Regions from separate parts of the Homo sapiens genome. Here region 2 is linked to region 1. The links come from fine-mapping of genetic effects on gene expression. A gene starts in region 1. The other region holds a variant in brackets. All regions are shown on one strand. Distances are from middle to middle. Region 1 holds the start of RNF215 (ring finger protein 215). Region 2 overlaps TBC1D10A (TBC1 domain family member 10A).

The links. PIP is the estimated chance that this variant, and not a neighbour inherited with it, causes the effect. A credible set is the group of variants that fine-mapping cannot tell apart.
Region 2: its variant is the best candidate, but not a certain one, in a credible set for the expression of RNF215 in lung (GTEx, PIP 0.55).

The regions. Positions count from the first base shown.
Region 1 is chr22:30,385,362-30,389,745 of GRCh38, forward strand. It overlaps RNF215 (ring finger protein 215), which reads right to left and starts at 2,050. Exons shown (of 9, transcript NM_001017981.2): 1 at 1,668-2,050; 2 at 1,255-1,398; 3 at 709-780; 4 at 543-628. The coding sequence starts at 1,952. RefSeq lists a silencer at 1,790-2,149.
Region 2 is chr22:30,312,389-30,316,772 of GRCh38, forward strand. The region is part of intron 1 of TBC1D10A (TBC1 domain family member 10A); the gene reads right to left. Among named protein-coding and RNA genes, the nearest start is that of TBC1D10A, 12 kb to the right of the region's middle. RefSeq lists an enhancer at 2,450-2,509. The variant A/T (reference allele first, on the strand shown) is at 2,221.

The DNA of each region.
Region 1 (4,384 bases):
CAGAGAGCCGAGATCGCGCCACTGCACTCCAGCCTGGGTGACAGAGCGAAACTCCATCTCAAAAAAAAAAAAAAAAAAAAGTTAACAGTTAGGCCGGGCCCTGCCAGGCCCAGCCACAGTGGCAGCAGGGGCAGCAGCAGCAGCAGTGGCAACGGGGGCTCCTGCCTGTAATCCCAGCACTTTGGGAGGCCGAGGCAGGTGGAACTGAGGTCAGGTGTTCAAGACCAGCCTGGCCAACATGGTGAAACCCTGTCTCTACTAAAAATACAAAAAATTAGCTGGGTGTGGTGGCACATGACTGTGATCCTAGCTACTTGGGAGACTGAGGCAGGAGAATCACTTGAACCTGGAAGGCAGAGGTTCCAGTGAGCCGAGATTGCGCCACTGCACTCCAGCCTGGGCAACACGAGTGATACTCCATCTCAAAAAAAAAAAAAAAGGCTAACAGGTAAGGCCCTGGTCCCAAGCCCCCTCAGTCCATGGGAGAACCAGGGGCTCTCTGTACCCAGGGTCAGTCCTTTGAAGTCTAAATACCAACTCACTGCAGCAATGCATCCAACAGCTTGGTGACATTGGAGGAATAATGGAGGACGATCACTGGCCTGAGCAGAAGCTGGGATATGTCCAGCTGCAGGGAGACAAGGAGGTCAGCAGGCCTGGGTCCCCCTTTCCCCAGCTTGCTTACCCTCACGGCCTGGTCCGATTTACCTCTCGGACCACGTTGTGGTTCAGGATGAGAAGAAGCAGGGCAGAGGCACCCAGGAAGAGGGCCCGCCGCATCTGCAGAGGGATAGAAGGCGAGAGGCTAGCATATACCCTGCCTGCACACCTGTCTCACCACCTGCAGCCCTAGCTGCTCTTAGCTCCTGGCCCTGCAGTGAGCAAAACTCTGGACAGACTGCCATAAGCTCCTTGAGGTCAAAGGTGGAAACTGCTTTCTTCCTCCTGCCTCCCTTCCAGATGCGCTGTGCCTTCCCCGGTCCTATCAGGGCAGTCCCAGCAGTGGTCGTCAGCAGCAGCTCCCCCATCCCATACTCTCAGAGCCTGGTCAAGCTTCTCAACCTCTCTCTGGCCTCCTCTCACCTCCCTGCTTCGAAGCCATACTGACTCCATTCTTCAAACTGGGGTGCCCTGACCCACCAGGCCTAGGGCTTCTCTGCAAGCTCTTAAGGGCCCATCTAAGGAGGGCCTGGCTCTAGCAGATGCCTTGGAATCCTTTCCTCCAGCCCCCTCCCCCATAGACATCCCCTGCACCTGCTGGACCAGGGCCTTGGGATAGGCCTGCGGGCCACTGCCCTTATTCTCCTGGTGGAACTGGGCCGCCTGCTCCTTGCCCACGTATGCCACTGCAATCCAGCCTTCCACTGGTGCCTCCTGCTCGGCATCCACGATGTCCATCTGTGTGGCAAGGGGCCATGAGCAGAGGGAGGTAGGGTGTGGTGGGGGAGGGAGCCGGGGTCATCACAGTGGATGCCAAGGCCAGAGTTCCCAGAGCATCTGGCTCTCTGGTTTGGGAAGCCGGAATGCTGGGGGCCTGGGGAGCCTGGGGAGGGGCGCTGGACTCTCAAGGCTTGGTGGAGGATGAACGTCGGTTCAGGGTGCGGGGTCTCTAGGGAGGGTTGAGAGAGGGGTTTAGTGATGCGGCCAGATGGCTCAGCAGCGCTCACCAGCAGCAGACGACCGCCCAGCAGGGGCGCCGGGTCGGCTTCGGAGCCGATCCTGACGCCCTCCAGGACCAGAGCGTCCTGGCGCGGCAGTCTCACGTCCACCCGCACGGCGCGGGCTCCGCCCCGCCCCGCCCCGGCCGCCGGCTCGCTGCCGTCCGCCGCGGCCCCGGGCCCCGCCAGGCCCAGCCACAGCGGCAGCAGGGGCAGCAGCAGCAGCAGCGGAGACGGAGGCGGCGGCGGAGGCGGCGGCGGCGATCTCAGCGCGGGGCGAGCGGCGGGGCCCATGGCCGGACCCGGCGAGCTGGCCCAACAGTGGGGCCAGGGGTCCCGGGCGCGGGGGGGATCGGAGGGAGCGAGGCCGCTGCCGGACGGGGCGGGGCGCCGGGAGGGGCGGGGCCGCGGCCGGACGGGGCGGGGCACCAGGAGGAACGGAGTGGGCGCTTGGCGGCTCTCGCGCCCAGACTGGGCCGCGGGCGCCCCCTGGTGGCCGCGGAGAGCTCAGGTGCCCGCGGCTGAGGGAGCTGGAGAGGGGCAAAACCGGGGTCGCAGCGGGAAGGCGGAAAGTCAGAGAGAGGAGGTGCTTCGGCAGCGGACGCGTCAGCGGGGCAGACAGGAAAATAGTTGGAAAGGGCGACCTGGGGGAGCAGAGACACGATCAGAGCCTGAGAAGGGCAGGAGCAAGGGATGTCTAAGGGGCCTGGTGGCAGGCCCTTGTTCTGCGGCAGCCCCGTGGACCCACGGGGTGGCCAGGGCCAAGTCACATCCCTCTCTTCCCCGGTCCTCCCTGTCTCGACCCCACTAAACAGCAGGAGGCAGAGAACCAGAGACTGGCGTGGGAAGCCGACAGGGGAGATAGAGGGGCAGGGGAAAGGGGCTGGGGGGCAAGGCAAAACGAAGCAGGCAGGGACTCAGTGCCTCAGTGGGACCGAGAGGCTGGGTCACTTCCCTCATCTGTGAAATGGGCACCATAGGCCGGGCGCGGTGGCTCACGCCTGTAATCCCAGCACTTTGGGAGGCCGAGGCGGGCGGATCACCTGAGGTCGGGAGTTCGAGACCCGCCTGACCAACATGGAGAAACCCCGTCTCTACTAAAAATACAAAATTAGCCGGGCGTGGTGGCGCATGCCTGTAATTCCAGCTACTCAGGAGGCTGAGGCAGGAGAATCGCTTGAACCCGGGAGGCGGAGGTTGCGGCGAGCCGAGATCGCGCCATTGGAATCCAGCCTGGGCGACAAGAGTGAAACTCCGTCTCTAAATAAATAAATAAATAAATAAGCACCATGTACAATCAACACTGCCTCACCCCCAGCAAATAACTCAAATGTCTACTGGAATGTGGAAGTTCCACTACTGTTCTAAAACTTGTCCGTTTCTCCAAGGGTTGGGGCTGCTGGGAGCTGGCTCAGTCTGAAACCTGAGCCTTTAAAAATTGTATGGTGGGCAGGGCGCGGTGGGTCACGCCTGTAATCCCAGCACTTTGGGAGGCTGAGGCAGGCGGATCATGAGGTTAGCAGATCGAAACCATCGTGGCTAACAAGGTGAAACCCCGTCTCTACTAAAAATGCAAAAAAATAGCCGGGCATGTTGGGAGGCGCCTGTAGTCCCAGCTACTCGGGAGGCTGAGGCAGCAGAATGGCGTGAACCCGGGAGGCGGAGCTTGCAGTGACCTGAGATGGTGCCACTGCACTCCAACCTGGGCCAGATGAGCCACAACACTCTTTTTTCTCCAGAAAAATTGAAAGAATTTTACAGTGAACACCTGTAGGAACACTGATATGGGATGACCAAGTTGCTCCTGAAGAAGTGTGAGACGGGTATATAAGACAGCCCCCGATATCAGCCTAAAGACAGACAAATGGAACATGAAATAGGCCAGAAACTGACCCACACATCTAAAGATGGTGTACATCAGAGGAAACATTGTGTTTGTGGAGATACAAGGAGGCAGTAGCATGGACTGTTTGGTAAATTGTGCTAAGAAATTGAATTAACCATTAGGAGAAGAAATTAGACCCCTATTACATACACATCATATACAAAATATGAATTCCATATAGATTAAAGACCTAAATAAGAAAAGTAAAAGTTTAAGCATTAAAAAATTATTTATGCATTTATTTTTGAGACAGGGTCTCTCTCTGTTGCCCAGGCTGGAATGCAATGGTGCCTTCTCAGCTCATTGCAACCTCCAGGGTCAACTGATTCTCCCACCTCAGCCTCCAAAGTAGCTGAGACCACAGGGGTGTGTCACCATGCCCAGCTAATTTTTTTTTTTTTTTTTTTTTTTTTTGTAGAGACAGGGTTTCACCATGTTGCCCACGCTGGTCTTGAACTCCTGGGCTCAAGGGAACTGCCTGCCTCAGCCTCCCAAAGTGCTGGGCTTACAGGCAATAGCCACTGCACGTAGCTAGATTCTCTGTTCTGTTCCATTGGTCTATAGTAGTCTCCCCTTACCTGAGGTTTTAGTTACCTTCAGCCAACCGAGGTCCAAAAAAATATTAAATGGAAAATTCCAGAAATAAACAGTTCATAAGTTTTAAATTGCATGCTGTTCTGAGTAGCATGATGAAATCTCTTGCCCTTCCTCTCCATCCCTCCCTGGATATGAATCCTCCCCACGCTGTAAATGTTACCACCTGTTAGTCACTTAGTAGGCCTCAGAGTTATCAGATTGAAGAAACACAGTATGTTTTCAGCACTACCTGAGGTTTCCGGCA
Region 2 (4,384 bases), 73 kb before region 1:
GCACACGCCCTGTCATCCCAGCTGCTCGGGAGACTGAAGTGGGAGGATCACTTGAGCTCAGGAGTTTGAAGCTGCAGTGAACCATGATTGTGCCACTGCACCCTAGACTGGGCCACTGGGTCACAGGGCAAGACCTTTTCTCAAAACAAACAAAACAAACAGAAAACAAAGAACAATAACAACAACAACAACAAAAACAACACAAAAAACAAAGAAACTTCAGGCCCTGGCTCTCAAGGCCCTCCTGTTCCCCTGCACATCCCTTTCTCCCCTAGTCCCATCTCTATAGGCCCCTACCCCTGAGCCATCTTCCTTCAACCCCCATTCAATTTTGGTGCCATCATCTTGGGAAGCATCATTCCAAACTCCTTCTCATCTCTACAAAGCCTCTCCTAACTACTCCAGGGACAGAACACAATCAGGCCCTCATTATATTCCATGCACACCTTTCTAGAGCCTGTGTTCCAGGCCCTGAATCTACAAAGATGAATAAAATGTGGTCCCTGCCCTTGAGGAGGTCAATCTGGCATCAACAAACAGGTAGGTAAATAACTAGCACACAGAGAAGAAGTGCCATCACAGGAGCATGTAGAAGGGGCTAGGAGACTGCAAAAAGACCCCAGGGTGAGGACGGGCTGTTTAGAGAAAGCTTTAAAGGGGAATTGACTTTTGAATTGGGGTTTGAAGGGTGACAGGAAGTAGCTAGGCTGAGAAAGGGGAAAGAACACACCAGGCAAAACACTCAGTATGTTCAAATGCTAGTTAATAGGAGAGGGAATGGCTTGTTTGGGGAATGTGAGCAGTCCAGTGGGACAGGTGGAGCTTCTCCACCTAAGGGCTGTTCTGCAGAGGCAGCATTTCATGAGAAGGCGCGTTCCTGGAGGGCAGGGGCTCTCTTGGCCTCATTCTCTGCAGTGTGTCCCAAGCCTGATACCTAGCTGGTGCTCAATAAATGTGTGTGTGTGTGTGTGTGTGTGTGTGTGTGTGTGTGTGTGTGTTGTTATTGTTGTTTTGAGACGGAGTCTTGCTCTGTCGCCCAGGCTGGAGTGCAGTGGCGCAATCTCGACTCACTGCAACCTCCGCCTCCCGGGTTCAAGCTATTCTCCTGCCTCAGCCTCCTGAGTAGCTGGGACTACAGGTGTGCGCCACCACGGCCAGCTAATTTTTTTTTTTTTTTTTTTTTTTTTTTTTTTTAGCAGAGACGGGGTTTCACCATGTTGGCCAGGATGGTCTCGATCTCCTGACCTCATGATCCACCCACCTCAGCCTCCCAAAGTGTAGGGATTACAGGCGTGAGCCACCGTGCCTGGCCAACAAATGTGTGTGTTGAGTGATTCATGAGCTTGGTGACCTCAGACACTCTGAATTTCATTAAGTGTTGTCAGCAGTGAAAAGGGAATATGCTCCTCTACCTTGATATCAGGTGGGTAAAGCATAGTAAGAACTTGATAAAGAGCATTCCCTCTCTGGCCTGGTACCAGCTCTAGATCTTCCTCAAAGCCCAGCACAGGGCTGAGCACAGATCTGCTTGATGATGGCATTTTATAACATTACAATTCTAATATTCAATTAACTTAACTGAATGTCTGTTATAACAACAGACGCTTGCTATGCACCAGACACTGTGTTCAGCACTTAACTTACATTATTTCATTTAATCCTGACAAGCCCATGAGATAAATCCTCTAATTATCAACTCCCTTTTGTGAATAAGGAAACTCAGGTTCTTCAGAAAGACAATAACTGGCCAAAGTCCAAGTCAAGCAGGGGATGGCACTGGAAAGTGAATCCGGGCCCTGCTCATCTCTCCCTCTGTCACTCAACTCCACCACCAAGTGCTGTCCAGTAGGCTGGGTATACACAGCCTTGCTCCTGAGGAGCTTGGAGCTCAGTGGACTCAGAGGCACAAGCTGTGTGATGCTTGGCAAGTCACTTTGCCTCTCTGGGACTTGGTTTCTGCTTCTTAAAATGGGGACTATGATGATAAATACTCTCACAGAATTAAACGAGGTGATGTAGGTGAAAGCCTCGTCCACCATACAGGCTCCTCTGTGAAATGGCATTACTGTGACTATCCTGGGAGGATGGAGGGGGTCACTCAGAAGCAGAACAGGAAGCTCAGGATGAAAGTCTACATGGTGCCAGGCACAGTAGCTCACGCCTATAATCCCAACATTTTGGGAGGCAGAGGCCAGAGGATTGCTTGAGGCCAGGAGTTTG[A/T]GACCAGCCTGGGCAAGAGAGTGAGACCCTGTCTCTACAAAATTGTTTTAAAAATTAGCCAGGCATAGTGCTGCATGTCTGTAGTCGTAGCTACTCAGGAGGCTGAGGTGGAAGATTGCTTGAGCCCAGGAGTTCAAGGCTGCAGTGAGCCATAATTGTGCCACTGCACTCCAGCCTGGGTGAGAGAGGGAGACCCTGACTCAAAAAAAAAAAAAAAACCCACCAAAAAAACACAAAAAACCCACAAAAAACCCACAGAGGAGGGTGGTGGTAATTATTAAGCAAACTCAGACTCCTTCCCCAAGTGACTACCACCACCCAGGAGGACAGAGGCCCCGGGCAGCACTCTGGTTGCAAGCCTTGAGTGGAATCTTTCGGGATGCCCACCTTTGCTCTTACTTCTGCTTATCTTTACAGACCAAGGAAAGGGAAGGTCAGGCCCTCAGATCACAGCCCTGCTCCAGATGACTCAGCGAGGAACTCATGGGGGGATTCCCAACCTGCCCTGGCAGGCCAGGAAGCTCCAGACCACAAGCTGAGTGGGACTGGCTCCTGCCTAACCTCCACGGTCGTGGGGTAGGTTGGAAGAGCACGTGAGGGAAGCCAGATTTTCACCCCAAAGCTGCATTGCTCCCTTACCATTATGCTAAATGTCTGAGGTAAAATCTCAGAGGGTAATTTACACTCGAATTGTGAGAGCCGCCATGTTCCACAGAGCCCTTACTTTGTGACAGACACTGTGCTGGGTGCTTTACCAACAACATCTCCCTTAATCCTAACAATACTCCTGCTCCCAATGCCACCGCCACACCCAGCTAATTTTTTTGTATTTTTAGTAGAGATACAGTTTCGCTATGTTGCCCAGGCTGGTCTTGAACTCCTGGACTGAAGTGATCTGTCCACCTTGGCCTCCCAGAGTACTGGGATTATAGGCATGAGCCACAGTGCCCAGCCTAGGTTCTCTTTCTTTGTGAAGCCAAGCGAAGATGAAAGGGAAAGCAGCAGCATTCTCCAAAAGTGGCTGGCCGCGGAAGATCGCTTCTGGACTCACAGTGTCCAAGGCCCAAAGCACTGAGTAGGGACAGGAGTTCTCCGAACTTATGCTCCTTCACTGGGTCACTCACGACCCAGCTACTCCTGCCTTGTCTTGGGGTACATATGAGGAGCTGTGTGTGGAGTCCTGGGACAGGAATTGTGTCATCCATCATGACAACTTAGCAACAAAAACAACCTGAAAAGCCTGGTAGGAGAAGTGCAGACACTTGGGGCTGGGCTGAAGTCCTAAGACTGGGACAGGAAGGGGAGGAGGAGAGGCCACACAGTGGTCACCAACTTTGGTAAGATGGGAAATTAGGAAGGAGGAATGCTGGGTGCCAGGCCCTGTTCCATCACTTGCTCACCCTTGGTTTCCTTATCAGGAAACAGGGTAAAATAATAGCCTACCAATTTCCCATTGCTCCTATAAGGGTTACTGAGAGGCAATGGAAATGAAAGCACTTTGCAGACTAAAGAGCTAGATAAATCAAAGCATCCCTTGATTTGATTACATTCCCAAAGTCCTGAGGGACACCGATCCTGCACACAAAGAGAAGTCCAGCCTGGTATGGTAGTTCATGCCTCTAATTCCAGCACTTTGGGAGGCAGAGGCAGGAAGATCACTTGAAGCCAGGAGTTTAAGACCAAGCTGGGCAAAAAAGTAAGACCCTGTCTCAATCAATCAATCAGAGATGTCCTCTCACAAGAGGAACAGAGCATGCTGGGAGCAGTGGTTTCTGTGGCATGTGCCATGGTGACTCCCCTGAACTTGCGTGGTACCACATAGAGAACTTCTCAAAGCACTGTTTTTGTTTTTGTTTTTTTTTTTTTGAGATAGGGTCTCCATTGCCCAGGCTGGAGTGCAGTAGTGCAATAATGGCTCACTGTAGCCTTGATTTCCCAGGCTCAAGTGATCCTCCTACCTCAGCCTCCCAAGTAGCTGGGACAACAGGTGCGCACCACTATGCCCAGCTAATTTTTAAATTATGGGATGTAGAGATGGGGTCTCCCTATGTTACTCAGGCTTCAAAACACTTTTCATATACTCCACGGTCAGTCTCAGGATGTCAGATGTAGCTGTCTTCAACACCATCCCACTAAAGCTGCCTTAGTTGGCTGGCACAGTGGC